4 linked regions of the Homo sapiens genome follow. The protein of the gene in region 4 interacts with the protein of the main gene of each other region in a biochemical or structural test. Each region holds a gene or a part of one and is shown on either strand. Other genes may lie near its edges. The genes, in order: TIMP4, SCUBE3, PZP and MMP2.

The links.
Region 1: the proteins of MMP2 (region 4) and TIMP4 form a complex in vitro, tested with the Homo sapiens proteins (2 studies listed by BioGRID).
Region 2: of the proteins of MMP2 (region 4) and SCUBE3, one has a biochemical effect on the other in vitro, tested with the Homo sapiens proteins (one study listed by IntAct).
Region 3: the proteins of MMP2 (region 4) and PZP form a complex in vitro, tested with the Homo sapiens proteins (one study listed by BioGRID).

Annotation. Positions count from the first base shown.
Region 1 is NC_000003.12:12,155,897-12,162,880, reverse strand, and holds the start of TIMP4 (metalloproteinase inhibitor 4 precursor), read left to right. Parts: upstream 1-3,968; 5' UTR 3,969-4,040; coding exon 4,041-4,179; intron 4,180-4,289; coding exon of another isoform or gene 4,290-4,391; exon of another isoform or gene 4,392-4,989; intron 4,990-5,398; coding exon 5,399-5,496; intron 5,497-5,946; coding exon 5,947-6,061; intron 6,062-6,984. Other genes in the region: SYN2 (synapsin-2), read right to left, coding at 727-869, 1,273-1,335. UniProt on the Homo sapiens protein: Complexes with metalloproteinases (such as collagenases) and irreversibly inactivates them by binding to their catalytic zinc cofactor. Known to act on MMP-1, MMP-2, MMP-3, MMP-7 and MMP-9.
Region 2 is NC_000006.12:35,237,956-35,244,955, reverse strand, and holds part of SCUBE3 (signal peptide, CUB and EGF-like domain-containing protein 3 isoform 1 precursor), read right to left. Parts: coding exon 6,938-7,000; intron 6,249-6,937; exon of another isoform or gene 5,205-6,248; coding exon 5,082-5,204; exon of another isoform or gene 4,583-5,081; coding exon 4,466-4,582; exon of another isoform or gene 3,816-4,465; coding exon 3,690-3,815; exon of another isoform or gene 3,414-3,689; coding exon 3,297-3,413; exon of another isoform or gene 3,151-3,296; coding exon 3,046-3,150; exon of another isoform or gene 2,753-3,045; coding exon 2,636-2,752; exon of another isoform or gene 2,335-2,635; coding exon 2,176-2,334; exon of another isoform or gene 1,936-2,175; coding exon 1,720-1,935; exon of another isoform or gene 1,363-1,719; coding exon 1,201-1,362; exon of another isoform or gene 994-1,200; coding exon 826-993; exon of another isoform or gene 526-825; intron 307-525; coding exon 145-306; intron 1-144. UniProt on the Homo sapiens protein: Is a positive regulator of the BMP signaling pathway, required for proper chondrogenesis, osteogenesis and skeletal development. It acts as a coreceptor for BMP ligands, particularly BMP2 and BMP4, facilitating their interactions with BMP type I receptors.
Region 3 is NC_000012.12:9,205,392-9,213,202, forward strand, and holds the start of PZP (pregnancy zone protein precursor), read right to left. Parts: upstream 3,005-7,811; 5' UTR 2,951-3,004; coding exon 2,868-2,950; intron 1-2,867. UniProt on the Homo sapiens protein: Is able to inhibit all four classes of proteinases by a unique 'trapping' mechanism. This protein has a peptide stretch, called the 'bait region' which contains specific cleavage sites for different proteinases.
Region 4 is NC_000016.10:55,489,167-55,496,197, reverse strand, and holds part of MMP2 (72 kDa type IV collagenase isoform 1 preproprotein), read right to left. Parts: intron 6,548-7,031; coding exon 6,374-6,547; intron 4,398-6,373; coding exon 4,242-4,397; intron 3,041-4,241; coding exon 2,905-3,040; intron 1-2,904.

The sequences.
Region 1 (6,984 bases), on a different chromosome or scaffold from region 4:
AAGTCAGGTAGTTTTGAAATCTTTTCCTTTACTAAATTCTAATGCAGGAAATTTTTAACTTTCCATCCTGGCAAATGGACACAGTTACAGAGAAGTCATGCACTGGGCTTTTAATGTTCTGTAGCATTTTTCAGTGCTGGATATTTATACCAGGAACTTTTTAACTTTGTGCTGTGGCAGTCTGGGGAAGCCTATGGATTCCTTCCAATGAACACAATATATAAGATGTGTAACTGTATAAGATAGAGTACATGGGATCCCAGAGCTACCCAATTAGAGTTATCAAAAATATTAAACAAATCTGTGATTAGTAAAATATGTGTTTCTAAGTAACAGGAGGTAGTGGCAAGCCTAACAAGTACCATTATTTTAAAGTAGGAATGAGAATAATCCATAGAGATATGTGTCTCAACTATAAGATCTAAGATCTAAGAAAATCAGTAATCACCTTTAGTGACAAACTCCTATGTACAGGTAACTAATGTAGTCTGTCGTCTCTGTTCAAAATGAAGAGAAAGCTAAATTTCCCTTAGAGGCAAGTGAAAATGAATATTAATATATTTTCTCATCTTAGTCCACAGACCCCTCCTCTGACTTAAAAGGAACCCAGGTAAAAAAATCTCTGACTTAAGTGGCACCCTCTCTGTTATCTGAGAGTTGGCTGCAATGTGGAGGCTCAGCTTTTCCATCATCACTGAGGAGAAAACATACCCCACTCTTACTCACATGTAAGCCTTGTAGTTGTTGCCAATCTTCTGGACCCGGATGTCATACTTGGAGTCAATGAAAGGCTCTGCAGTGGCATAGGTCTGGGTGAGAGCCACCACGCTGGCAATGTCCTGGAAGTCGTAGTGGTTTTCCACTTTGACCTAATGTTAGAGCAGGGCAGAAAGGGGGAAAGGGAGACACACACATACACACACTGAGAAGTCACAAGGGCCCTGAGCCTCCAAACCCACCAATATGTATCCGATCCAGACACTAATCTGGGTGCCACATCTCCCCAGGAGGCCCCTTCTCCCTAGCTTCCCTTCCCAGAACTCAAGGGCCACACTTGCTGCAAAGGACCCAGAGGACCAAGCAGGTGGCTTGCATTCTGCTTACTGAAAGAGGTCTGGTTGGGTGACACTCATGGCTTTAGAGGTGGCAAATCATCTTCTCTTTGGAAAGAATTCATCAGTGACAGAGGGAGAATAGCAGTTCACAAATGGGCGCTCTGAAAACTGCCCTTCTTGGTTCAACCCTGAAGCACAGCAGGCCTCTCTGCCTCACCTTGCCCATGCCTGAGTGAGCGTGGCCAATCTTCACCACCACAGGGAACGTGGGCAGTGTCAGCTGAAATCAGAAGAGAAATGAATAAACTGTCAGAGTGTGCCCATCTCTCCGTGGAATCCTACACATATTTTTCTTGGGAATACCCTTGGGAGGGTTCTTTAAAGAACTAGTCCAATCTACTTGCTTTACAGATTAAAAAACTGAGACCCATGGAATGACAGTGAGTTCCCAGGGTCACAGAGCATATTAGTGGCAGTGCTACAAGAACCCTGTACTCTTATTTGGTATACCCTACATCTTTAAAATGCACTGTCAATTTTCTCTGCATTAGACAAAACCTGGGCAGGACTGGCCCTCAGACAAAGAGAATTAAAAAAAGAAAGTATCTCTGAAAGAGTGAACTTTACTATATGTAGATGTACTTTAATAAACCTGTATTTTTATTTTAAAAACACATCTTTGGCATCTTGATGTCCCTGTCAGCATGTACCCTCTTGGTACCTACAACCTTCAAAGGCCCAGCTTTCCTGTAATGATCCTGGTTGTTTTCTCCCTCTTTCACACTCTTCACTGCTCACCAATACCCCAATCTCACCACCAAACAAGGCTTTGCATGTGAAGGCCCATTTCTTCCCAGCTTGGGGTTTGAAAGAGAGCCGGTAGAAGAATTCAGTATGTTTATAAATGCAGAGAGATCCTTAGGGGAGCGAACTCTACACTGAGGTAGCCATACTTTAACAGAGGAGCAACAAAACCTTAAAAGAAGGATTATCCTCTAAGGGCAAGATTTCAAGCTGCTACAAAATGGTGATGTAAGAAGTAATATTGTGGAGTGGAAGGAGCACTGGGCTAGATGTCAGGAGACGAGTACTCTAGTCCTCTTCTGCCACGGACTTTCTACAAGTCACTGTATCTCACTGGGCCTCAGCCTTCACATCTGTCCAATGAAGAGATCAGATGGGATGCTTTCTGAGCTCCCTTCAAATAGTACATCAGCCTCTATCTTGGTCTGAACATTGTATGAAGAACCAGCCTGGATGCTAACCCGGGCATTTCATCTTTCAGTCAGACTCAGCTCTCTTTCAATTCCCTTCTTTTCAAATATCACTAACACCATCAAAATGAAAAGGTATCCTTTGAAGGAAATAATGTTGACCCTGATGAAAAGTCAGACTCCTATGGGAACTAAGATTTGAACAGATACTGGGGGTATCTGGCCTGAGGATCTCAGCATTCCTGGTTGAGGCCAGCCAAGGATGGGAAGAAGAACTTCAAAGGGCTTTAGAAATCACGTAGTTCAACTCTACTTTATGAAGAAAAAACTGAGGCCCAGAGAGGCAAAAGTCACAAAGCTACAGTGACAGTCAGAATTGGAACCCAGCCTCCCACTATCCAGTCCAGCACCATGTGGAAACATCCCACAGCAATAATCCCATGGAGATTTGGGATTTGGAGGCTTGCAACACTGTGCCCAAACAGCAGACAAGGCTCTGGTCACAGTCACCCCCAAGTCCCCTGCTTCTTTGTTTTTTCTTTTACTTTTTTTTTTTTTTTTTTTTTTTTGAGACGGAGTCTCACTCTGTCGCCCAGACTGGAGTGCAGTGGCACAGTCTCAGCTCACTTCAACCTCCGCCTCCTGGGTTCAAGCCATTCTCTTGCCTCAGCCTCCTGAGTACCTGGGACTACAGGTGTAGGCCACCACGCCCGGCTAACTTTTGTATTTTTAGTAGGGACGGAGTTTCATCATGATGGCTAGGGTGATCTCGAACTCCTGACCTCAGGTGATCAACCCGCCTTGGCTTCCCAAAGTGCTGAGATTACAGGCGTGAGCCACCACGCCCAGCCTGCTTCTTTGTTTTCTAAGCTGTCCCACCTTCTAGAACATGACAGAGTCTCCAGTGAGAAGGGACATGCAATAAAAATCAATGTAGTCTAGGGCCTCGAGAGGGCTTTGAGGTCCAAGGTTTGCCCTAAGTGATGGGACACTTTGTGTTTTGTACACCAAGAGCGCTGTCTCCAGCTATCTGGAGAGTCTGAGGCTCTGGGAGTGAGAAAGGGTTTCTAAAGCACTGGCTGCTTCTTTGACATCTCTCCCCACCCCCCAGGCAACAGAGCCAAGACACACACACCCCAACTTTCTCTGTCCTGTTCTATTACTGTTTGCTGTTGCTTTGGAGCCTCATAAATAGGGCATTGAAAGCACTTCCTGCAGCTGAAAGAAGCCCTGAGTAGCTCGTCTCATTCCCAGCGTGCAGCTCAGCAAGGGGTCCGTCCTTCTCTGTCACTGTCTCTTTTGCCTGTTGTAATTCTGTCTGCCTCTCTGGGACTCTGCCTGTCTCACTCTTTCTGTCTGTGCCTCTCCTCACTCTTGTTCTTTCTGCCTGAATCACAGCCCTCAGTTTTTCTGTCCTCATGCATTTGTCTTTGTGGCTCTTTCCGTCTTTCTGCCCTTGACACCATCCCCTCTCCCAGTGCTTCCCCTCTGCTTCCAGATCGCTTCATGACTTAGGCAGGGAAACAGAGGTCAGGGCCTCCTTCCAGGCTTCCCTCTGCATCTTACTGAGTATGCAGGTCGGAAGAGCCTCGGGTCCTGCCTCCGCGGGTGGCCTAGAGCCAAAGGAAGGCGGAGCCCGTCGGGGCGGGATTGGCCCTTAGGGCCACCTCATAAAGCCTGGGGCGAGGGGCACAACGGCCTTGGGAAGGAGCCCTGCTGGGGCCGTCCAGTCCCCCAGACCTCACAGGCTCAGTCGCGGATCTGCAGTGTCATGCCTGGGAGCCCTCGGCCCGCGCCAAGCTGGGTGCTGTTGCTGCGGCTGCTGGCGTTGCTGCGGCCCCCGGGGCTGGGTGAGGCATGCAGCTGCGCCCCGGCGCACCCTCAGCAGCACATCTGCCACTCGGCACTTGGTGAGTCCGAGGTCCGCGAGGTCCACAGCAGGGGGTGGTTGTGGGGGATTAGTATCTGGCCAGCAGTACACCAGGAGTCCAGAGGAAAAGGGAGGAGCTCAAATTCTTACCGGTTGTCTCTTGCTGAGGCTGATGGGTGGAGAAGGACCAGGCGCCATAGCAACCTTGCAAGCCCAGAACCTGACTGATTCATAAGGAAATGAAGATTTCATCAGGGACTTCCATAGCGACCTCCCTCACTCCGGCCATACTGCAATTATGGAGTGTCATTACACAAGGTGTCACCGGAGCTATCTGATGATTATTCTGAACTACTAGACTGGGGACAGAAAGGGGAGGGGAGAGGGCTTGCATTGTAACTACCCGTGTCTGTCCAGGCCTATAACTGAGGTTGCCACCAAGCCCCTATGGCAACACACACGTTCTGTCCTTTCTCTTCCCTCTGCCTGGAATGCCCTCCCTCACACCCTTAAATTCCTGGCAGACTCCTACTCATCCTTCAAGGGCTAACTTAGGTCTCTCCCCTTCTCTGCAGGCTCCCGGGCTCCTTGGTGCCGCCTCAGCATCTCTAACCGTCTTAGCGCTCCTACTATGCTGTGCTGTTGTTCTTTACACGTGTGCACTCCACTAGATCAAGAGCTCGGCAGGATGGGGACCCTGTCTTAATCACATCTATGGGCCTAGTGCCTAGTGCAAGGCCAGGCACAGAGGAAGAACATCATCAACAGTTTTTGGTTATTAATGCTCAAATGGCAAGAGATGCAATACCTCAGTGCAGGGTCAGAACATTTATGAATTCAATAAACATTTACTAATATCAACTGTAGGCGGGATGAGAGGCCTTGACCACAGCAATAGATAAACTTCACACCGACTGCCCTGAAGGGGCTCCTCCTCCCTTCTCTACTCTGACTCCTACCCTGTGCCCCACTGCACAAACGGCTATGGAGAACTAGAGCTCTCCAGACTAACTGGTTCAAAAGGCAGAAACAGCTTAGCGGTTATAGGACCTAATAAGCCTGAGGGGTTTGGAACTTCCAGTGACTGCAGGGGAGGTGTTTCCAGGTCCCCCTTCTCACACATCACGTTGCTCACAACCCAGCCACACCAAAACCAAGAACTGCCCTATAGACTTCTTCATGGACCCTGGATCATCCAGACCTCAGGTGTATTGCCCCCACCAGCTGCTGAAGGTTCCCTCTTTTCTCTTCCTATGCAGTGATTCGGGCCAAAATCTCCAGTGAGAAGGTAGTTCCGGCCAGTGCAGACCCTGCTGACACTGAAAAAATGCTCCGGTATGAAATCAAACAGATAAAGGTACATGGGGGCAGGCTGGGATGTGTAGCCCCTAAGGCTGATGGAGAAAGTGGAGTCTGTGTTCTGGGAGGGCTGGTAGCTTTCAGGTGGCCTGGCTCAGTAATCCTTGGGTCTAGATACTGAAGTGGAACTGGATGAGATTTGGAGGCAGAGCCCATAGAATCCCAGGGATATTGCCAGGGAGGGCCTCAGCATCCATCTGGTCCCACAGCTGCTGGTGTATGGTGCCACTACAGGTACCTACTGGAATAAACCAAGGTTTAGGTGTTTTTTGTTGTTGTTGTTTTGTTTTAAGAGAGAAAATAACCCAGTAGGGACATCTGAGGACACAAAATCCTCAACTAGACTTTTGCTTACATTTTTAGGCTGAGAAGTGAGAGGTTTTTGTCTGTTAATATATACAGTACACTCACTGACCCAATATTGCCTTTTTTTGTAATTGCCTGTCAGATGTTCAAAGGGTTTGAGAAAGTCAAGGATGTTCAGTATATCTATACGCCTTTTGACTCTTCCCTCTGTGGTGTGAAACTAGAAGCCAACAGCCAGAAGCAGTATCTCTTGACTGGTAAGTTAAAAGACCAACAACTGGCCTTAATATAATAGATTCTGCCCTAGGGGAGGTAGTGAGAAAGGAGCCAGGGTCTTCCTTGGGCAGTAGGCTGAGCCAGGTGGCATTTTCTTGGGCATAAAACAGAGCTGTGTTAGTGACAGACAACCTCTGGGTTAGGAGGAGCCTTGTAACCTCCCTTTAAATGTAAGAGTTCTTAGTACAGTGACCCTGGCCACCGTTTCACTATTTTAAGGACAGGCTGCTCACCCAGTGTAGGGCAGCTGCTTCCGTTTTTCAAATAGTTTAAATTAGTATAAGATTTTTGGCAACTTGAGTCGAAGTCTCCTCTCTAAAACTGCTCCTTGCAGGTCAACTCTGCCTTTTGCACAGGACTTAACAGGAGCTTGAGTCTAACATAGTTCTGTCTCTGTGAACTTGGGCCCAGGCAGGATTCCTCCATACTGAATTGGCTGGGATAGAACAGTTAAAGAATCACACAAAAATATGACTCCATAAATGAATGCAACATTAAATTATTTTGGAGTTCAGAGAACGGAACTATTTGGTAGTTGTGAACTATCAGGGAAGCTTCATTGTGTAGGTGGGATCTAAACTGGCCTGAAAACATAAAACAATATTTAGAAAGAAAGCAAGGGAAAGAAAAAGCACAGCAGTGGGGGAGGGAACAGGTGAAGGGATTCCACGATCTATCCACACATTCAGCAATGAATGACCACTTAGTCACTGCCATGCCTTGGCCAGGAGAGTGGAGATTCAGTAACAAGGCACAGTCCTTAAAAGAGTTCACTGTCCAGACATGGCTCTTGATGAGTCATAGGCACTGGAGGCTACAATGATAAGGGCTTCCTAGCTCTGAGGATGTGGAATTGTACAGAACTGAGGAGCTCCTGGATGGAAGAGGCAGAGGCAGGACACAC
Region 2 (7,000 bases), on a different chromosome or scaffold from region 4:
TGAGTTGGGGAGAGGTGGAAGGTGGAGTTTTCCTGCTCCTCCACCCCCCAGCCCTGCTCCCTGTTGGTTTCACACCCCTCCTTTAGATGTCCACTGCTCCCAGGCCTCTCTCCTCCCTTTTGCACAGCCTGGCTTGCCACGTACTCTTGCATTGGGCCACACTGGTAGAGCCATCAAAGTCTGTGCTTGTGTTTCCTGGACAGCGGCTGCAGAAGTTCTGACGGAAGTCGGGCTGATAGGAGCCCATGGCACAGCGAATACAGCGGTGGATGCTGGTGTTGTAGTAGTGCCCTGGGGAGCACTGGACTGTAGGCAAGGGAGAAGGGCAGGAATCAAGATGGTAGGCAGGTGGGAGTTACGGGGCATGGGATGGACAGGATACATTCATCCTGGAGAATCAGGAGATCAGATACATCAAAGTTCTTTTCTAGGGTCTCAATCTTTCCCAGTCATGCCAGAATTTAAGCCCACGGAAAAACAGAGTTTACAGAGTGGTTGGCTACAGTGCCAATCCTTTTCTTTCAGACGCTGAGCACAGTGCCAAACCTATATAGAAACTCATTTGGGATATGGAGGAGAATATGCCACCAGTTCTCCAAAGTGGAGGGGTAAGTGGGACTGTTAATTATTTCTCAGTTCCCAAGCTTGGGACTAGTGGAGGGGCAGGGTGGGTCCTGGAAGCAGGATGGTATGGTTGGTCAAGTAGCTGGGCCCATTACTGGTTTGGAGAAAATGGTGGGTCAGTGTCCCCTCTGGGAAATTGGAGAGTTTTTTGGGAGTAGTTGGGGTTGGGGCATCCCCCAGGGAGGTGAGTAGCTTACTCACCTTTGGTGTCACAGTCTTGGAAGGAAATGGCCCCTTCATGCTTGGTGGTGAGGCCCCCACCACAAGGGAAGCATAGGGTCCGTCCTGCTTCAGGTTGGTAGGTGCCACGTGGGCATGGCTGACAGGGCTTGAACCCATCTACAGAGTGTTGGCCAGGTGGGCACTGACCTGCAATGAATCAAGGGCCCAACTCTGATGGGGATGGTCCTGAGTCATCCCCATGGGGTCACCCGATCTCAGGGGACAAAGGTATACAAACAGGATGTTGACTAAGAGAGTGGCCTGGAGCCTGGGCCTGCCCTTTGGGAAATCCCATGCCCATGGGCATCCCAGTGCCCACCCTACCCCACTCTGTATTGTTTGTTCCCCTGGCACCTGCACACGTGGTGACGTTGGTGGCTCCAAGAGGCCCGTGGGCATCACTCCCAGGGCAAAGGTCGCAGGAGAGCTGCCCTTCTCTCTCCTGGAAGGTGCCCGCTGGGCATGGCACACACTGCTCCGTCTGGCCGTGGTAATACGTTCCCTGCGGGCAGCTGACTGAGGGAGAGTCGGCCGCGCTAGCCACCCACCCCCGCATTTCCCACCACCCAGGCCTGGGACTCCCCTTCCCACTCCCCGCCACAACCCCCGATTCAGGGAGAATCTCTGTCAGGGAACAAACACAATCCTACTTGGGGGGATAGGAGGGTCAAAACCGTGTGCAGGAGGATTGCTGGCCCCACCTGGCATCCTTCTAGATTTCAGCCTGGAACCAAGGAAGGGAGGACAGCGGGCAGGAGCATCCTGGCTGCCTCATAATTTGAGAAATGCATCTGAGGCCACAAAGGGTCCTGCTCTGAGTCAGGCCCAAACTGGGTCTTTCCTACATCCCTGCTCCCCAGTAAGCTCCCTTACCACACTTGGTCCCAGCACGGTGCTGCCCGGGCCTACAGGACTCCATCGGCTCTGCTCGCTCCCCGGCTACCAGGCCCGGCTTGTGGGCCAGCTCATAATCAAGGCCTGCCAGGCGCAGCAGGAAGCGGTCCTGGTTGATGGACTTTCTGAGCATCTTCAGGGATCCTTTCAGCCGCCGTTCCATTCGCTGTCGGAGGCAGGGCAGCCCACAGCTGGCTGGTGGTGGATGGCCGTGTGTATCAGGGAGGAGAAAGAGTTGCTGTGAGCAGGAGGGCAGGGGAGCAAAGCTGGGAGCTAGGAGGGGCATGGTAAGAGGGACTAGCTTTTAGGCTTGGCACCAGGCAGGGTCTGCCCCTAGTACAGGCTCCATCCCTTCCTTTTGCTGCTGAGACCTGTGGTTTCCCCACCTCTGCCCTCCCCTTCCAGTCCTCTTCCCAACAGTGCCCCCAGTCCCACCTGTGGTTTCTTCGGCTCTGACCTCTGCCTCCAGTTCCAGGGTGAGCCTTGTGACCTCTTTGCCTGGAGGGGTCCGGGCCCGTCGGCCCTTGCCCTTCCGAGAGGAGTCACACTTAAGGTGGATGAAGGTGACCTGGCATTCAGAGCAGGGGGCACCACCTGGGAGAGAGGGCTTGTCAACCCCAGGGACATCCCCTGGAAAGTTCTCACTCCCAGCCCAGACAGACCTCCCCAGATCTCTAACTGTAACTATCTCTCAATCCTGTTTTAGTCTAGGGTCCTAATTAGTTGGTGGAGGGGAATATTCTGGGACTTCCTTGGGTGCTATGCCTACAGCTGCTTTTTCCTCTGCTCTGCCTAGAGTTCAGGGTTCTGGTGGGTTTTTGGAAGCAGAGGAGCTGAGGGGTAAGGAGGATTTAGTGGCCAGACAGCCAACTGGAATGGGGTCCCCAGTCCAAACCTGGCCCTGTGATTCTGCCAGCCTCCTCTGTTTTGCCTTTGTTTCGCAGGTGCAAACGGCATTTGGCATCCTTGATCTTGAAGGAGGCCCGTTGTTTAATGGACAGCACTGCAGCCTCTAGAGGGATGGTAGAAACTCAGCACAGTATGGGATGCCCATGGAGGTCGGGGGTGCCGTAGGGGTTGTTGAGAAGCTGGGTAATAAGCCAGGGGCTTGGCTGGGGGAGTGAGATTATGAAAGTCAAGGGGATCAGATGTTAGGGCAGAGGGAGTGAGGGAGCAGGGTTGGAGAATTACAGGGCAAAAAAGAGGATCCAGGAGAAAGGAAGGCCAGGGGATTGATGAAGAACAAAAATAAGGGATTAATGTAAGAGAGTAGGGTGGGAACAGGGCTTCTGGGCTGGTGCTTACCATGGCAGTGGTTGGAGTTGGTGCTGTTCCCATTGTGGCCAGCTCGGGCTGGAGCAGCCCTGGGGCTGGGGGTCCCACAGCTCACCGTGAAGCCATTCTCAGACTCTGAGAAAAGGAGCCTGTCACAGTTCTGACCTGCCTTCCCAACCCCCGCTGGCTGGAGGAATCCAGGGGGAATGAAGGAGCTGCCTGAACGGCCAGTCCTTCCTCTTTTCTCCTCCAAAGCTCTCCAGCACCCTCCTCCCATGTACCTGGCAAAAATCGGGCCCTGGAGGGACAGGTCAGGGCACAGGTGTCCTTCTTGCCAGACCGGTTGCAGCTGAGCATGGCTTTCGAGGCCCCAGGACTGCCCTGACACTTCAGTGGCTCTAGGAAGGGGAGAGAGGCCTGAGCAAATGAATGCATTCCTTTCCCTCAGTTGGGTAATTTGGAGGAATCAGCTACTTGCATAACTATTGTTGTACCCATGGAGACTGATGATGGGATTGTTTACTACAAATTTCATGTCTTTAACTCAAAATGGCTACATTCTCCACCCTTTCCACCTCACACCTTTCCCCAATGTGATACTCTATGCTTTCCAGAACCCCAACTGCTCCCTGAAATGGCAGTGTCATCTTTGGCCAGCAGAGGGCACTGCCCACCTGTGCAATCTTTGCCATTCCAGTGCAGCCGACCCTGGCCTGCTGGGCAGGTACACTGGTAGCTGCCAGGAGTGTTGATGCAGCCAAAGCGGCAACCTCCCCGGTTGATGCTGCATTCATCCACATCTGGGGGAAGGAGTAGGGAGACAGAAAAACAACGATGGAGTTGGAGGAGGAGCCGGAGAGTAGGCAGTGAGTGAGGGCCTTTGGTTAGAGTTTCAGGTACCCTGCATTACGCAAGATGAATAAGTTCGAGAGATCTACTGTACAACAGTGTGCCTATAGGCACATAAATACTGTAGTGTACACTTAAAAACTTAAGAGGGTAGATCTCTTGTTAAATATTCTTACAATTTAAAAAAGTTAAAAAGGCATTCTAGGCACTGTAAGATGACTACTGGCCTGAGAAGAGCTCAAACCTCCTCCAATTATCTCTGTCCCCAAAGGAATGATCGAGAAGGGGCCAAGCCAACAAGCTTTTTAAAGCCTTCCACTCCTCCCAACCAGTGAGACTGTCATTTGGGAGCTGAGAGTGGGGGTTCAGGGACAGTTATAGGAATGGGAGATAGGAATTTTGGAGGCAGGATGCTGTTTCCGCAGTCTCCCAGTTCTTCAAAAGCTGTCTTAATTCCTCCTATTTTGTCACAGCGGATGCAGACATGGTGCATGCATCCAGGGATTGCCCATAGCCACAAGCCAACACAAGGACCTGTTCAATTGGAGGGTGAAGAGGTGAGGGGGCCAGGGTGGCTGGGGGTGCAAGCTTACTAGCTTACCCCCACAGTGGGTGATACCATACAACAGGTAGCCACGATGGCAGAGACACTGGAAGCTTCCTGGTGTGTTGACACATATGTGGTCACAGGTTCGATCAAAGGAACACTCGTCTATATCTGGAAGAGCAAAGATTCAAGCCACTGAATCTGTCTTGGAGCACTTGACCCTTGCTCAGGTGAAGGACCCAAGTGAGGGGCCTTGGCTTTCCCCCTTGAACTGAAGAGTTCCTATTCATGTCCTAGCTCTAGGACCAGTGATTTAACAATGCCATTCCATCTTCTCTGCCCCCTCTATTTGAAGTCCTTGGAATTAGGAACTGCAAGATCTGGTGCCTTTAGGTCAGGGCCCACCATGTGTGGTTAGGTACGTCCTACTCTGCCAAGGATATGAATTGGGGTGAAATCCATCCCTCAGTCCTTGCCAGGCTGAATGCTTTGATATGGAGCTAGTCCGCTGAGGGGAAAGAGTACCATTTGCTAATTTGCAGGATGACACTGCCTCTAGAGACTCTGTGTGATATCTATTGAGTTTCTAAGACTTTAGCCCTCTGGCCTCCTTGAAGCTCTCCCACAAGAACCTCTCCTAAGGCTTTCACCTTTGGCTGAGTCTGCTCACCCTGGCAGTTCCTCTCATTGATGAGAAGCTTATAGCCTTTCTTGCAACTGCATTCGAAGCTGCCCACTGTGTTGCGGCAAATATGGTCACAGCCCCCGTTGTTTAAGCGGCACTCATCTATATCTGAAGAAGGAGGACAAAACAGGATAAAAGATACTATCAAAGGCTGAGAACAAACAAGGAGAAAGATCCCTCCCTCACTGACAGAGACATGCAAAAATCAAGGAGTCCTGGGCCTGCCTCTTCTTGATCTCTCTCTGTCTCTTTCTCTTTCTCTTTCCTGTCTCTCTCTCTCTTTCCTGTCTCTGTTTCTTCCCTGTTCAGGGGATCTGTGGCCATTAGTAACACCCTCTCTTCTGGGATTGAGTGTTCTTATAAGGGGACAAATTGGAACCAAAACTAGGAACAGGCCCTCAGGGAATTACCTAGAGGAGGGGCAGGTGGGCATTTGACCTAACAGGCTAGCCCTTAGTCTCCAGCTGATGGCCATTCCCTGAAAGGTTGGTGGGTAAGGGTTATCTCTTTCCTGTCCCTCAGGACGGGGGGTTGGGGGGGTGCGGGGCAAGGAGAGGTGGAGGGTCTAAAGGGACTCACTGAAAACGGGCAGCCCTTTAGGGAGGAGGAGGAGCTGGGAAAGAGGCCAGGCAGGGAGGACCTCCAGGAGAGCCAGTGAGGCTGGGTAGCTGATGGGGGAGGGCTGGGGGCCAGGCAAGGGGCTGGACTGGGAGAGATCTGGAGAGACTCAGGCCTGAGGCAGCTTTCAGCACTAGTAAGGGAAAGGGGGGCTGGTGAATGGCTTCCTTCCTGAGGTCAAGTTCCCCAAGCTGGTGGCAGACAGGACCCAGGCTACTCACCCCTGGTTGGGGGAAGGGGCAGGGAGGGCAGCCTTTCACTTCACTCTTAGCATACCTGTCAACAGTTCTTCCCAGCAGGAAACCTCTCAACTCTGGCTGGCTGACCTGCTGCCCTAGCCTCCCCCCTCCTCTCGCAGCTGTTGGGCCAAAAGACACAAAGAACGAGCCCAGTCCTCCTCGTCCCCACTCCTTGTGACCAGGGGATATGGACCTAATGAATCATCATTTTCAGTATGGCTACCCTGCCTTTTTCCTCCACCCTTTCCCCCCATTCTCCCTCAGACCTGGCTAATTAAAAGGAAGGGAAACAGAATGCATAATGTGGGTAACTATACTGTAATAACAGTTAACACAAAGTGTTTCCATTTGCCAAGCACTGTTCTAAGTACTTTTTATGTAATCACTCTTTTAATCACAACACAGTATGAGGCGAGCACTATGGAAAACTGAGGCACAGAGACATTAAGTGACTTGTCCAGGATCACAGAGCTAGTAGGAGACAGGGCTGGGATCTGAACCCAGCTTCAGTCCTCCTAACTAGTATCCTACTCTCCCTTTGACCAGTACAGCCTTTCGAGGGGTAGACATCATTTCCCCAGAGCCCACTGGGAAGGTCTGAGGAATGTGGGGTAAGAAGGTTATGGAACACACCTGTGACCTCATGCACACACACAGTCAGGGCTCAAATATCCTTCCAGACCCAGGAGCAAATGTGAATCGCATGTCCATTAACTAAGAGGGTTAGGGACCCATGGGGGATAGGAATGAGAGTAGGGAAACAAGGTGGGGTAGGGGAAGGGGGCACTAAGGAACTGGCTGGACTTCTCTGTCCCTTGAACTGAGATGAAACAGGCAGATAGGAGACAACCCTTAGCTATGTCCTGGGTTCTTCATAAGAAGGAGGTTGAGGAGGTGTCATCCCCTAATAGGCACCCTATCTCTGGTCCCAACCTCAGCCCCTTACCAAAGGTCACTCTGCTTCTGTCCTCTCAAAGTCCTTACCTTTGCACGTCTTCCTGTCTGGCTGCAGCATGAAGCCCACAGGGCAGGTGCAGTGGACACCAG
Region 3 (7,811 bases), on a different chromosome or scaffold from region 4:
GCCACATGACAAGAATTGTTAAGCTGTCTCTGTATTAAGCCATTTAATCTTCCCAGCAATGCTGTAAGGTACATGCATGATACTCTCCATGTTCATGGAAGCTAAAACATGAGATCCTCATCAGTCCCCAAAACTTGAATCCATAACAGATAGATAAAATCCCTGCCCCCATGCCAAATCAGTAAAATCAGTAAATTGTGACTAAAATGTAACTCTTCAAAGCTTTAATGATTCAGTGATTCATGATTCAATATCTGCAGGGTTAGGCCATTTATAGAGTAAATTTGCAAGTAAAAACTATTATTTTCTTATATTATTTTACTACCCTTACTTTCCATTGCCAACATAAACTCTTACTTTTTAAATTGTTTTCTGGACAGGCAATTTGACACAAGAAACCCAATATTGTTGCTTTACAAAATTAATAGGTGTGAGACTAGGAGGAGAGAATCCAAGGATAATTGAGTTGTGGAATGTGGAACTCAAATTTGGTCCCCTCATCCTCCATGTAGTCTGCTCCAGCACACCAGTCTTGCTACATGTGTTTTAAAGTGTTCCTGGGCAAAACTATATGCCATGAATCTCCAGGGCCACTCTGAAATCATCCAAGTTTCAGATGATTTTACTGTATGAGTAGTAAGGTTTTGTTCTCTAGCAGAGAAGCTGAGGGCAGTTCAGTAACTCACTGATAGTCATTCAGCTAGTCTCTTATGTCTTAATCTTTTTCTGGTATCTGGATGCTTCTGATCTCCTGATCACTGCTCTTTTAACAGCATAATAAATAATAAAAATGTATCATTTTTTACATCCCCATCAAAAAATTTTTCCTTTAGTTCTTTGATCTTAATAAGAAGGTATATATATATTTATAATTTATTTACTATTTTTATTCTTATAAATTATAAGCCTAAAAGATATCACGATTAAAAATTAATTCCACATATATTTGATATTCTAAAGAACTATTTTATATGAGTTCAGTTAATATTTTTTTAACAGATATTGAAATCAGAACAAATCCAGGTTGACAAACTTGCCCAAGATGTCATTGGTAGTGAGCTGCTAAAATGTTTTAATATATGTTTACTCAATCATGAATGTTTGCATTTTAAATATTTGCCTCTTTAGCAGGGACTAAATGTAGCAAATATTAAAGTGATAACTTTTAATTTTCTCTTTTTCATTTTATTCCCCTGAAACCTTCATCTTTCTGAAGCTTACTGCCCCAAGGCAGGGGAGAATGGCTATTGGTTCTCTTTTGTAGTCTCTCACATTTATCACATCAAGGGTTAATTCTGGAGGGATGAAGTTAAGTTTTCTCCTTATAAAGGGAGAAAACACCCCTTCTGCTTGTGACAACTAGGGCATGAGGCTTGTTGTTCTTTGTTCAGTGGCAGACACAACGTAAAAGGATGGTTTCAATGGCAGCATGGTCCAATGTAGTGTAGGAATGCATCCAGAACCACAAATTGCTTAATGTTTCTGACCCAATACACGCTACTCGCTTTATCCATTCAGTCTGCTCTCAGAAAGCAAAATAGCCTCCACATATTCCCATATGCTTTCTGGATGGAGAGCAGCTGGAAGTAGTAGAGCCCACTGCTGTAGATGAGGTAGAGGGATAGTGGGGGAGAAATGTACCCCTACCGGTTGCCAGGAAATTGTGCAAGGAAAAAGCCTGAGGAAAGCAGGAGACTTACTGGATTGAACTCCTTATTTCTGCTTTCTGCGCTTTGGCCTGAAGAAGGCTATTTGTGTTAGATGGATAAGGGTAACACACAGAGCAGAGGGACCCCTTATCCCTTTCCCGATTTGGGACTCTGAAGACTTCCCTGTATCAGTCTGGAATACAGGAGACACGATAGGCATCTAGAAGTGCAGTGTGGGTATGCAAGAGAGAGGTAGAAGTTTAACCTCTCCAGGACACCTCAGTGCCTATGTGCTATTATTGGACCCAAGAGTTCTCACCATTCTCTGGAAGAAATGTAAAGGCAGCTGGGTTAAGGCCAGGGACCTTAAATGGCCTGGACTGCAAAGGGGCAAGGTGACCCTGCATCACAGGCTGTGTTGAAACAATAGCCATAGTATTTGAGGCAGGATGCAAAGGTAGGAGTTCTATGGGATATGAAACAGCTGAAGTGAGACAGTCAGTTAGAGAGGACTGTTGGGTCCTGAACACACAAGAGAAACCAGATGGCTAAACTTCAACAGTGCATGCCAGCAAGTAAGGAGAAGTCAGACTGACAGTAGCCAAGAAGGACGGAGAACTTTGAGACCAAGGACTCTGACAGTTTTCTCTATTAGGAGTTAATGGAGACCACAGTTCTCTAGACACTATAGAGGAGAGGAACTGGGGAGAGGTGGAAAAGAAGTCTTACAATTATTGAGTTGTACCAACTTACAACTGGATAGGGTTAAAATTATTTTCCCTGCTTTGGTCCCCCACTGGGGGCTGTTGGTGAAGACTTGATACATGATTGAAAAATAAAGGAGCTATACTTTCTGTATATATATATATGGCCTACAATACATGTTAAGTTGCACTTCACTATATATTTCGAATATCTCTATATTCAGTGCCTTCCATCCAAAAGAACTGTTCTGTGAAGTTGGGATCTAGTGTTTTATTTAATCATGCTTCCTAGTGACTAATCGTATTTATGACTCTGATTGGCCCAGTGTAGAAAAAATGATTTCAAGAATAGAGGATAAATGAAAGACAAACAAGGGATTAACTGGAATAATTTCTTATATTTGGAAGGTATTGTAATGAGTGGAAAGGTGGCATTTACAAAGGAAGGCAAAGCGAAGACACAAGGGAGAGACTGAAACGCACTCTGGAGGAAGGGGTCTTGAGTGAGACTTACGGTTCTGTAGAGTTTGAGTCACTGGCAGAAAGCAGGATAAGAAGTAGCACAAGACATAAATGAAGAAGTCTGTCTTTCCGCATTGTGAGGGATAAATCTCAGGGTTGTGTCCAACTCTCTGCCCTCAGCCTCGCCCTGGAGACCAGCTGAGTTTACCAGGCTTTATGTGGCCACTATGTACAAACAAGCCCCACCCCAAGGCCTCTGAATAGAGTTCAGAATTGAGCACAGATTCCCTAAAAGGGTCATTACTCTCAGTGGTTGCCTCATTTTTCTCAAGGCTAAATTCTGATAGGTACTGAGGCATGTCTGGAAGATAAAATTTGTATTCCATTTAGAATGAGCTTTGACAGCAAACCTCCTGATAAGGAACCTTCAACCTACCTTTCTCCATCTCTTTCAAAATCCTTACAAGCAGGTGACAAAGGATGCTGACAAAGAATGTCAGGGACATGTTACCATGATAGTAGCTCATGCATTGCAGATTCATTTCTGGGACTGAGTGAGTTATAACTATAGACTTTAGGGTTTTTGGGTTTTCTTTTTTAGCAGTTGATTGAGTACATGGTCCTGGAAGAAAGTGATATAAAATAAGGATTTCAAGAGTAGAGGATCAATGAAAGATAAAAGAGATAAAAGATCAAAGAGATTTTAGAAAGGAGTTATCAAAGATCACACTTGTCTATTTCACAGCATTGACCTGATCAGATTCTTAGTTGATCCTATCTGTCCTTGTTACTGTCTGAGCACTCTAACGTTTGAGTCCCTTAAACCATGTCATTGACTTTATCTGAGATTTTTTTTTTGAGCCATACTGTGTGCTAAGTGCTATTCTGGTGATGAAAATACAATATTGAACAGGATATTCAGTATCCATGCTCTCATAGAACTTGTAGTACAATGATGATCACATATAAACCACCAGCAGATTTAATGCCATCCTTAGACTGCAGACATTGGTGTCTGTTTACATACTGTATTGCTTGAAACTTTTTAAATCAACTTTCTTTCTCTTTCTCCATATTTCAGCCTAATCATCCCTTCTTTGGAGAGCAAATTCCTGGCCACACTGCTGAAAGTGGATTCCTTCCTATTAGTTTTTATTTCACATCTTTGTTTCTTTTGTCACATTATCATAGAATGAAATAATTTCTTTTAAATTATGAAATGTTATATATATATATACTCACAAATATAGAGAGCAAGATAAAAGACACTCGTACCTTACATGCACCCAACTTTAATAAAATTAAACACTTGCCAAGTTTGTTTAAGGTCATTTCTTCTTAAGAAATGAAAGATGGCAATGGTAGTGCTCTTTTAAAATTTGTCTAGAAGCTTTTCCAGTTTTTACCAGATCCACCAACCCAAAAAAAGAAATAAATCAAGACAAATATGGTTGGAGTTTCCTTTGTAATTCTCTCCAATCTCATTTCCCTTCCAATGTTGTGGGATTAGGAAGTTGATATGTATTCTTCAAGATGTGTTTATGTTTTTAATCCATATTTATGTAAATAATATATAGCATAATTTTGTGTTTTGTATTTTATATGTATAAGTGGTATGCACATATTGTAAAATATGTCATCACTATTATGGTTTTAAGACTTATTAGCATTGATAATGAGGATAAAATTTATTAATTTTAATGACCATCTATACGACATTCTATTGTATGAATGTGGCCGAACCTGTTACTCTATTCCCCTAGTGCTGAATTTTGGATTCTTCATAGTTTTCAACATTACAAATAATACTGCTACAAATACGGTATGTCTACTTAAGCATATTTGCAAGACTTTCTCTAGGGTATATAGCAGAGATTGGGTTATAGGCTATATATGTATGTACATCTTGAAATCTATCAGATTGGTAAATTGCTCTTCAGAGTATTACATGGATTTGAATACCCATCTGCAACAGTGGATATTTTCAGTTTATTATATATTTACCATCGTTTTACTCTGCTAGGCATTTTACTTTTTATCAATCTGATGAGTGAAGCAGTATCTTGCCTTAATTTTCATTATTAATGACTTTACACATCTTTTCATATGTTTATGGACCATTTGAATTCTACCATCAGTTTGATATCTCAACACAATATGTAAAGGGTCTATCAGGAACATCTCCTTGCCCCAGTTTCATGAGCCTTGGACTCTAGACGCTGCAATTTTATTTACTAAAGGCTTTAAAATGTGCTTCTAAATCTCTCAGCCAAATATTCTGGAGCTGTTAAATACCCTAAGGGGAAAGTGCCCTTAAACACAGAATTGCCCCTTTGGGTTGCTATGTTGCTTCTGAACTTTGGATTCATAATTCTTCACAGTCTTTGCTTTTCAATACCTCCAGTGAATATATATATAACCAACCATTCCTAATTTAAGTGGGAAGTTTGGTCTCAATTACCTTGTATACCATTACTGGAAAGGAAAGTCTTAAGTGTGTATTTTTATTTTATATAAAGAGTATTGGAAAAAGACCTTGCCTGTTTCTTATTCTTTTTAGTTATTGCTAGTTTTAAAACATCCTCCCATGTTTATATGTTTATATGTATGTATTTTATTAATTGCATTTTATTACAGTATAGCCCTCTTTGGTGATCATCCAAGAGGTTTAATGTTTCCACTCTCCTAATGATAAAAACAGGATTGTCTCTATTGTCCTGCCATGAGGAAATAATGCTTTGATAAATATCTTTTTACATATACCCTTTGAGACAGGTAAATCCTCTTGCAAGACGCATACACAGGAGTGAGATTGTTGTATGAGAGGCATGTACTTAAGTGACTAAATAGTGACAAATAACTCTCCAGAATGGTTGCATCACACCACAATTCTACCAGTAGTGCATGAGGATTTTCGTATCCCCATATTGCCACCAATACTCTAGCTTTTACATTTTTCTTCCAGTATTCCTTTAAATAAGCTTTCTGCTCATTTCCCTCTTTTCTCCTTCTAGGACTCCCATAATATGTGTATTTGCATGCTTGATGGTATTCCATAGGTCCCTTATACTTTCTTCACTCTTCTTTAATTTTTTTTCTTTTTTCACCTTTAATTAACTATTTACATGACCTGTCTTCAAGTTACTAATTCTTTCTTTTGTGTGACTGTGTTTGCTGTTGAAGCTCTCCATTAAAATATTCAGTTCTGTTCTTATATAATTTTTGTGTGTTTTTTCTTAATGGTTTCTATTTCTTTATTAAACTTCTCATTTTGTTCATACATTGTTTTTCTAATTTTATTTAGTTGTCTATCTGTGTTTTCTTGCATCTTACTGAGCATCTTTAAGATGATTATTTTGAATTTTGGGGGGAAATTTGTAGATCTCCATTTGGGGTGGAGATTAGTTACTGGAACTTCATTGGTTTCCTTTGGTGGTATTATGTTTGCCTGGTTCATCATTATCTGTGTAACTTTGCATTGGTTTCTATGCATCTGAAGGAGCAAACACCTTTTCCCATCTTTATAGACTGGTTTTACAGGTAAAGATCCTCAGGATCCTCCTGTTGGGTTCCCAGGATTGACAAGATTGCTTCCAGAATTGTGGTCAACTGGAGGTAGAGCCAGGTCACATGGTTTTGCTGGGTCAACAGTGAGGTCTGTGGTTGGCAGGCCTGTTAACTGGGGCTCTAGTAGGCTTAGATTCTGTCTGTTCCCTGGGTAAATTGGACTGCCTCCTAGACCTTGGTCAGTAGGTCTGGCACTGGGATGAGGGTCTACTTTAGAGTCCACAGATTGTAGGCTAGTTACGAGATATGTGGATGAATGTGGCTTCCTCTGGGTCCTTAGGAGGGCTCCTACTGGGTCACTGGGTAGGTTCCTAGGCAGACAGTGCTGGTCCAGATTGCAGCTGAGAGAAAAGAGAACCAAGTAACAGGGCTGCCTCAGGGCCTACAGCTGAGACCCAGGTCTTCAGGCCTGCCTCTGGGTTCATGAATGGGCATGTGTCCCACTGGGTCCCTGAGTGGGCAGGCCTGCTCTCAAATCACAGATGAGAGGGCCTGGAGCCAGTATACAGTGCTGTTTTAAGATCCACAGTGGGACCAAGTTCAGCCTACCAGGGCACTTGTGAGCATTTCTCCCATTAGGTCCCTGTGAGGGCAAGACTGCTCTTAGACTGCATCATAGAGGAGCTGGTACCAGATTTCAAGGCCATTTTAGGATTCACTGTATAAGAAAGAAAGTAGCCAATCATCTTTTCTAGTTTTTTTATGTTAGTTATTTTCTTTCATTAAATGTTATAACTAATATGTATAGTTGAGGCCATGGTAGAAACAGTAGTGACAAAAAACATAACTGTCTATGCAAGATAATAGGACAAATGTTTTCCAAATGAGGAAAAGAGTAGTTTTGTCTTAAAATATCTGATTTTTCCAGAATGTGAAATGGGACAGTGAAAGAGAAAATCTGAATGAATGTGCAATAAAGTTTGCAGGAAAGGAAATTATTTCCTTCATTTATAACATTGAATCTGAAAAAAAAAACCAGTAAATTTTTTCCATAGTTGGCTATTTTTTACAATTTTTAAATGGACACAAATTCCCATTACATAACATTTATTACATTACAGTGTACAATTCAGTGGCTGTTAGTATGCTCATGGTGTTATGTAATTATTACCACTATGAAATTATGGAACATTTCCATCACCCCCAAAAGAAACTACATACATGTTAGTAGTCACTTCCTATTTTCAACAAGTAGAAATACTAATTCGTGCATTCTCTGCAAACACTAATCTACTTTATATTTTTATGAATTTACCTATTTGGACATTTCATATTAATAGAATCATAATATATGTGGCCTATGTTGTGTGGCTTCTTTCACATAGCGTGATGTTTTCAAAGTTCTTCCATGTTGTAGCATATATATAGTACTTCATTCCTTTACATGAGTGAACGATATTGAACAATATTCCAATGTATGGACATACCA
Region 4 (7,031 bases):
CTCATTAGAAATGCAAATGATTGGGTCCTTACAGAGATCTACAGATAAGAATCTCTGGGCTTGGGGCCCAGAATCTGTGTTTTAACAAGCCTTCCAGATGATTCTAACGCATGCCAAGGTTTGAGAACTACTGGTCTAAGCCAATCAGAGTTTAGCATTCCCTAGCACTGTTACTGATTCAGCAGTTGCCATATGACTTACAGTGGTGTAAAGACGGAACACACAGACTTGTATTTCACATCTGGGGGTCTGTGTGTGTGTATCTGTGCGTGTCTCTTTCTCTCTCGCTTCCTGGGAGAGGGCAGGGATTAGAGCCCCAACTGCCACTGGTAACCTTCTTGTGACCATGAGGTAGAACCGGCCTTAGGATGAAGTAAGTGCAGAGGCTAGCAGTGGACAAAGACATCAAGTCACTGACCCTCTCTCTGCCCCTGCAGGCAGCTCTACCCCTGGACTTTGTACCAAATGAAAGCAATTTCTCTCTACTGTTTAGGCTGGATTGAGTTTGCAGAGGGATGGTCTCTGTTATTTGCAGAAAAACATCCTAGCGTAGGAAGGTGTCACAATTTTTATTTAGCAAATGAAGCTCAGAGAGGTTAGGATTCAAATTACTTAGTTATCACTACATCAATGACTAAATAAATTAGTTATTACCAAGATTCATATCCAGATCTGACTCCAAAGTCTGAGTTTAATCACCCTGCAATACTGTCCTTCATGACCCCCACCCTCACCAGTGCCTAGCAGCAATTTTTGCTCATGGTTGAAGTTTAATATTTACTGGTTAATCAAATAAACCCATTAAACACTCATCACGTTCCTTTTGAAAGAAAACTGTGATGTGGTAGGCCAGGGATGGCTCCAGCCTGGGTCTGGGCTCTGCATCCTTTCCTAGGCCCCACACATCTGAGATCTGCATGTGTGGTCAGGGCTTTCTTAGTGGGAGGAGCTCCAGATGAAGCACATTGCCAGATCCTTACAATGGGAACTGCAGAGCAGTGCTGACATCTGCTGTTATATATCCTGATTTGGGCATTCGAGGCCTGACGGGACCTGATTTCTCACTACATTCTAAGTCTCATCTCTCATTGCATTCTTGCCATTTCCCCATTGGCCAGCAGACCCTGTGAAGGGCAAGGCATCTGCACCCCAGAATTTGGCCCAGTGCCTAGAGTAGAGGAAACTCTTCCTGAAAGTTTATGGAACATCTTCTAGCCTCACCAGATTCTCACTGGCTAATCCAGAAACTTTCACATCACTATGGCTTGGCTCTGCAGGTCCCTCTGTCTCAAAGAACCTCCTAACTTGTCACCCCCATCAGATTCTTGCTTCTCCTTTGAAGGCTCTGCTCAAATGCTGCTGCATCTGTGAAGCCTTCCTTGACTGGGACGTGCTCACAAAAGCACCTAACACCTCTGCGATCACTTTTCTTTCATCTTGCCATGTCAGTTCTCCATGCCTATTTCTCAAACTGGACTTGTGATGCACAAACTTTAATGTGCATCAGAATCACTGGGAGAATTTGCTAAAACGCAGATTCCTGGGGCCTAGCCCCAGAGTTCCAGTCAGGAGGGTCTGAAGCTGGGGCAGAAAACCCACCTTTTAATACCCACACTCTAGATGGTTCTGTTATAGGAGGCCCATGCGCCTGTCTTTGAGAACACTGATCTAGCAGCCCCCCACCCCACTGTCCCGAGAACATCATTCTTCCTCCTCCAGCTACTAAAGCCTAGCAAAGTATTTGGCACAGTAGATGCCAAACAATTATTTGTCAATAACAATAGCTAATATGAATACACTTACTCTGTGTCAGGCATTGTTTTTGTTCTCAGCACTAAGTTCATCTAATCCTTACAACAGCCCTAGGAGATAGGTTGGAATATTAGCCCCATTTTATAAATGAGGAAACCAAGGTACAAAGAAGATACTTAATTAACTTGTCTATGATTACATAACCAGTAAGTAGCAGTTACAGAATTCTAACCCAGAGAATCTGGCTTCAGAGTCCATTTTCTCAACTACTATACTCTATGAATGAATAAATGGATGAATAATGAATAATGGATGGCTGGATCATAAATAATGGATAATAGATGGCTGGCTGGCTGGATGGATGATGGATGGAAAGATATAGGTATGGATGGATGGATGGGTAGATGGATGGATGATAGAAGAATGGAAGGACAGACCCTTTAATGAGGTCCTAGATACTGCCTGCCATTCTCCAGGGAACTAGGGCATTAGGGTAAACCTCAGTCTTTAGTCAACTGAGTGGTGATCTTTATCTATAGCATGAAGAATACCACCTCTTTCTACTCTGCAGTCACTCACCACCCATACACAGAGTAATTTGGCCATTTGAGGGCAACGCCATTCTAGAAGGCCTGTGGTAGACTGAATTATGGTTCCCAATTCTTCCCTCCATTTTGATTTTAGGATTATGCATTCATATGCATTTCCATGTGACTTTGCAGTACTACCCTCTAGGGTAGGTCTTGGGATTGGCCATGTGACTTATTTCAGGCAGTGGAATATTCTCAGACAAGATGTGAGTGGAGGCTTTAAATGAGCTTGTGTAGTTCAGTTTGGCCTCTTGCACCCTGTCATCTGCCATGAGTAGCTGCTAATCCCATGAGAACAACAGGCAGAGCACACCTGAACCCAAACTGTAGCTGAAAGTCAAGATAACTAGTAGACCCACAGACTATGAGAGAGCAAACAAAATGCTTGGGTGCAAATCCACTGAAACCTGGAGGTTGTTTGATACACAGCAGAAACTGCCTAATTCAGGTCATTCTGGGAAGCATTTGGCGGAGTCTTCAGCGAAGAGTGAGGGAAAAGAATAATGGTATAAGAGCAGAGGACAGGAGACAAGGAGGACAAGAAGCAAGCTCCTGCACTCACCGGTCCTTGAAGAAGAAGATCTCACCACGGATCTGAGCGATGCCATCAAATACAATGTCCTGTTTGCAGATCTCAGGAGTGACAGGGCCCAGCGTGGGGGTGGGGCCGGTGCCAAGGTCAATGTCAGGAGAGGCCCCTGGGGAGAACACCTGACCTTAGACTCTCTGCAGCTCCAGAGGTTCTCCCCACTAGGGTGAGCCCCCAGGGGTGCCCACCCAACCATCTAAGAGTCAGAAGAAATCGCCTTCTGGCCTTAGTGTAAGCTCCGTAAGGTAACAAGAAGATGCCTGGACTTGGGGAGTCCTGGGGCCCTTTGTACTTTATATATGCTTTTTACTGACATCACCCAAATCAGTCCTCTCTATAGCCCTGGGAGTGGGGTATCATGATTGCACCATTTCACAGGTGAGGAAACTGAGGCCCAGAAAAGTTGAGTGACTTGCCCAAGGATTCAAACCCAAAGCTCAGATTCTTATGCCCACAAGAGTCAGGGCGGTCAGGGGGCCGCTGGTGTGTCCAGAACTGACAGTATGGCACTTTTCATGATAAGCAATTATTTTAGAGATGAGGAAACTGAGTCCAAAGAGGTATAAAGACTTACACAATATCTTGCAGCTAGTGAAGGGCAGAGGCCACATTTGAACCCAGCACCCCTCACGGCAGACCTTGGGCTTTTTCCTGAGTCTAGCAGTCCCCAAACTTCATCACTCAAGCACCACTTTCACTATTTTGGCCTGGCTCAGATATCACCTGGACCATTAAATATTTTTTAAAAATGAACTGACTTTTTAAACTCTAGCCTCACTGTAAGAACCAACAATAAATAAATAAATAAATAAATAAATAAATAAATAAATAAATAAATAATTGGCTTAAGGCACTGGTTGTTCTGTTTCTACTACATACTAAAAATCAAAGCTTATTATGAAAACTAGAAACTTCCACCCCCGTATTGTTAAGGTCATTCCACATGATGGAAAATTCTGTCCTGTACTTGGCTATTCTCCTGGATTCTAAACTCCACTGGGTTGCTCAAACCTGTGTAACCTTGCACCAGGTGACCTTACTCACCTAGAAAATGGGAGAAACCCAGAAATGGAGCGCTAAGAGTGACATGGATATTAGCATTGTTCGGATAGGGAAGAGTTATCCAAGTATCCCCTTGGAGAGCTGCTCTGCCTTCCCAAGACCAGGTCAACACTCCCATTTCCTGCCCTCGTCTCCAGCACTCCTGGCTGGATGAGATCTTGCTGGTCCCACCCCCTGGGCCTCCATCCCAGGCTACATGACCTCCCCCCTCCTCACCCTCCACCCCCAACCCCCGCCCGGAGGTTTACCATAGAGCTCCTGAATGCCCTTGATGTCATCCTGGGACAGACGGAAGTTCTTGGTGTAGGTGTAAATGGGTGCCATCAGGGCCCCAGGGTCTTGGGAGTGCTCCAGCCCCATGGCGTGGCCAAACTCGTGGGCTGCCACGAGGAACAGGCTGTACCCTGAGGGTTGCAGGGAGGAGAGAGGGTTGAAAGACAGGAAGAGAGATGAGAGAGAAGTCAAGACCTGACCCAGTGATGCAGACTTTTGAGGACAGCCCCACAGTAAGGCTGAGAACCCTGGAAGCGGCATGTATTGATTTTTTTTTTCTTTTCCTGAGAATTCTGGGATCAATACACAATTTTGGGATTAGTGCCTATTGTTTCCAAGTGGGGTCAGCCAAAGTCTTCTTGTCTCTTTCCAAGTCAGTATCAGGACAGGTGTGCTATAAAGGAACAGAACAAGTAGTATCTGCGAATTTTCTACTTAAAACCCCATTCATTTTAAAATCCTGCTTCCTGGCTTTTTATGTCTCTCTATAAAAGATGAGCTCTACAAACCCAGCTCCTCAGCCTCTCTGAAGAGGTAAGAAGAGTGGGGATAGGCTGGCCCCATGTTGCCACCATTTCTGCCCAGGTGAAAGCAGTAAAAACCTTTCACACTTAGCGTGGTTGCACAGGCTGAGCCACAGCCAGCGAGCAAAACCTGTGTCACACCCTGTTGTGGTTAAATGCGTCCCCCCAGAAAAGATTTGCCCAAGTCTTAACCCTAGGGACCTGTGAATGTGAACTTATTTGGAAATAGGCAGGAGAATCACTTGAACCCAGGAGGCAGAGGTTGCAGTGAGCCGAGATCATGCCACTGCACTCCAGCTGGGCAAGAGCAAGACTCCGTCTCAAAAAAAAAAAAAAGGAGGAGAGGCAAGCAGAGGGGGAAGAAGGCCATCCATGTCATGACAGAGGCATAGACTGGAGTGACGCATCCTTCAGAGGGAACATGGCCTTACTGACGCCGTGATTTTAGACTTCCAGCCTCCAGAAGCATGAAAGAATACATGGGGTTTGTTTCAAGCCATCAGTTTGTGGCACTTTGTCATGGCAGCCCCAGGAGACTATAATATTCACCCTGGGTGAGCCACTGAGCTCTGGATACTTGAACCACTCAGGAAGGTGGAGAATCCCACCTTTAAGCTGGTAAAATCAGACTGTGTCCTAGCAAGGAATTTAGCAGGGGATAAGAAAACCTCCTTTGGCCAGCCTCTGTCCACTGACATCTGCCAAGTTCCATCTCATGATGATTAAAAAGAATGAAAGCAACATAAAGACAGGCTTGCCTAATTCTGACAGGCCCTGGACCTGCCCACTGACCTGGCCATTATGGGCCATCAGGGAGCTTTAAGCAACCCTGCAACCCTGGGCTCTGTAGCCTAGATTGGGCACAGGGCCCCAAGCACCCTGCTCACTGCACTGAGCACATAGTAAGGTCACAAGCTGTCTCCTGGTCACTCTCTCCCCTGAGCTTGTGAGTCCTAGGGGGCAGAGAGCTGTCCCAGTCAGCTCCATCCTCAGCACCCAGGACTGACGAGGACCCACCATTTACACCCTGGTAACAGATGGTGCTGACTGATGGGGGAGAGAGGGCTCTGGGGGCTCCCCCAGGGCTGCGTGGACCATGGTGTCAGATCAAGCATGAGGCTCTTCCTTTTTTCCTTTCTTCTACTGCCTACCAGCTCCTTGAAGGCACCTCTTTGTGCAGTGGGAATGTCTCTTAGGAGAATTGTCTCTCTGGTAATCTGTGCTCAGAATTCAGCCAATTTTGGTAGTCACAAGCCCGCCTGGAGGGTGGCTGAAGGGGAAGACAAGAGCAGTGACCCCTCAGGAAGGCCAGTTCTTACCCAGGAGGTGAGTAGCAGCATCTGGTCTACCAGGGTCTGATTTTGGAGGCTGTGCCTCCACCTGGATGGGCAGGATCTAAGCAGGGACCTTGGCTCCACCAGAGATGGGCATTGTCTCAGCCCAGGTGGGCGGGTCTGGGTAGGTGGGTGTCTGGGGGGCAGTGTCTATGCTTGAAGTGGGTGAGGTCTCAGGAAGGTTTTTGGAGCAAGTTTAGGGGCAAGGGCAATGTCCAGGGTCTCTGTCCAATGACCAGGGCCTCGTACCTTGGTCAGGGCAGAAGCCCCACTTGCGGTCATCATCGTAGTTGGCTGTGGTCGCACACCACATCTTTCCGTCACTGCGGCCGGCGCTGGTGCAGCTCTCATATTTGTTGCCCAGGAAAGTGAAGGGGAAGACACAGGGGGCACCTTCTGAGTTCCCACCAACAGTGGACATGGCTGTGGGGTTAGGGATACGGGTCAAGGCGCAGCAAAGAGTCTGAGGCTACCACCAGGAAGCAATGACATGACGCTGACCTTAATGAACCACACCTAAGTTAGACTCAGTCCCAGGCACTGTATCTTTAGACTCATCTCACCCACCCCTGACAACAGCCTTGTGCAGGAGGGACTGAATAGCACCGCGTTTCATGGATGGGAAATAGATCAGAGAGATGATGAAATTTCCCTAAGCCAACACTGCTAGGAAGTATCAGAGCTGCAATTCAAACCCAGGAAGCCAGATTCCAGAGTTCTAATGAGCCTCCCATGGAAGGGGGCAGATGGGCTAGGGGCAAAGGGAGTTGGATGAAGCTGATGGCACCAGCACATGCCCCTCAGCTGTGAGCCCCCTTGGGCAGGGCTTTGCAGAGACCAACCTCTGTGTATGCTGCACAAAGCAGGCGCTCAGTAAATTCCTGTTGGAGGAAGGGAAGAAGGAAAG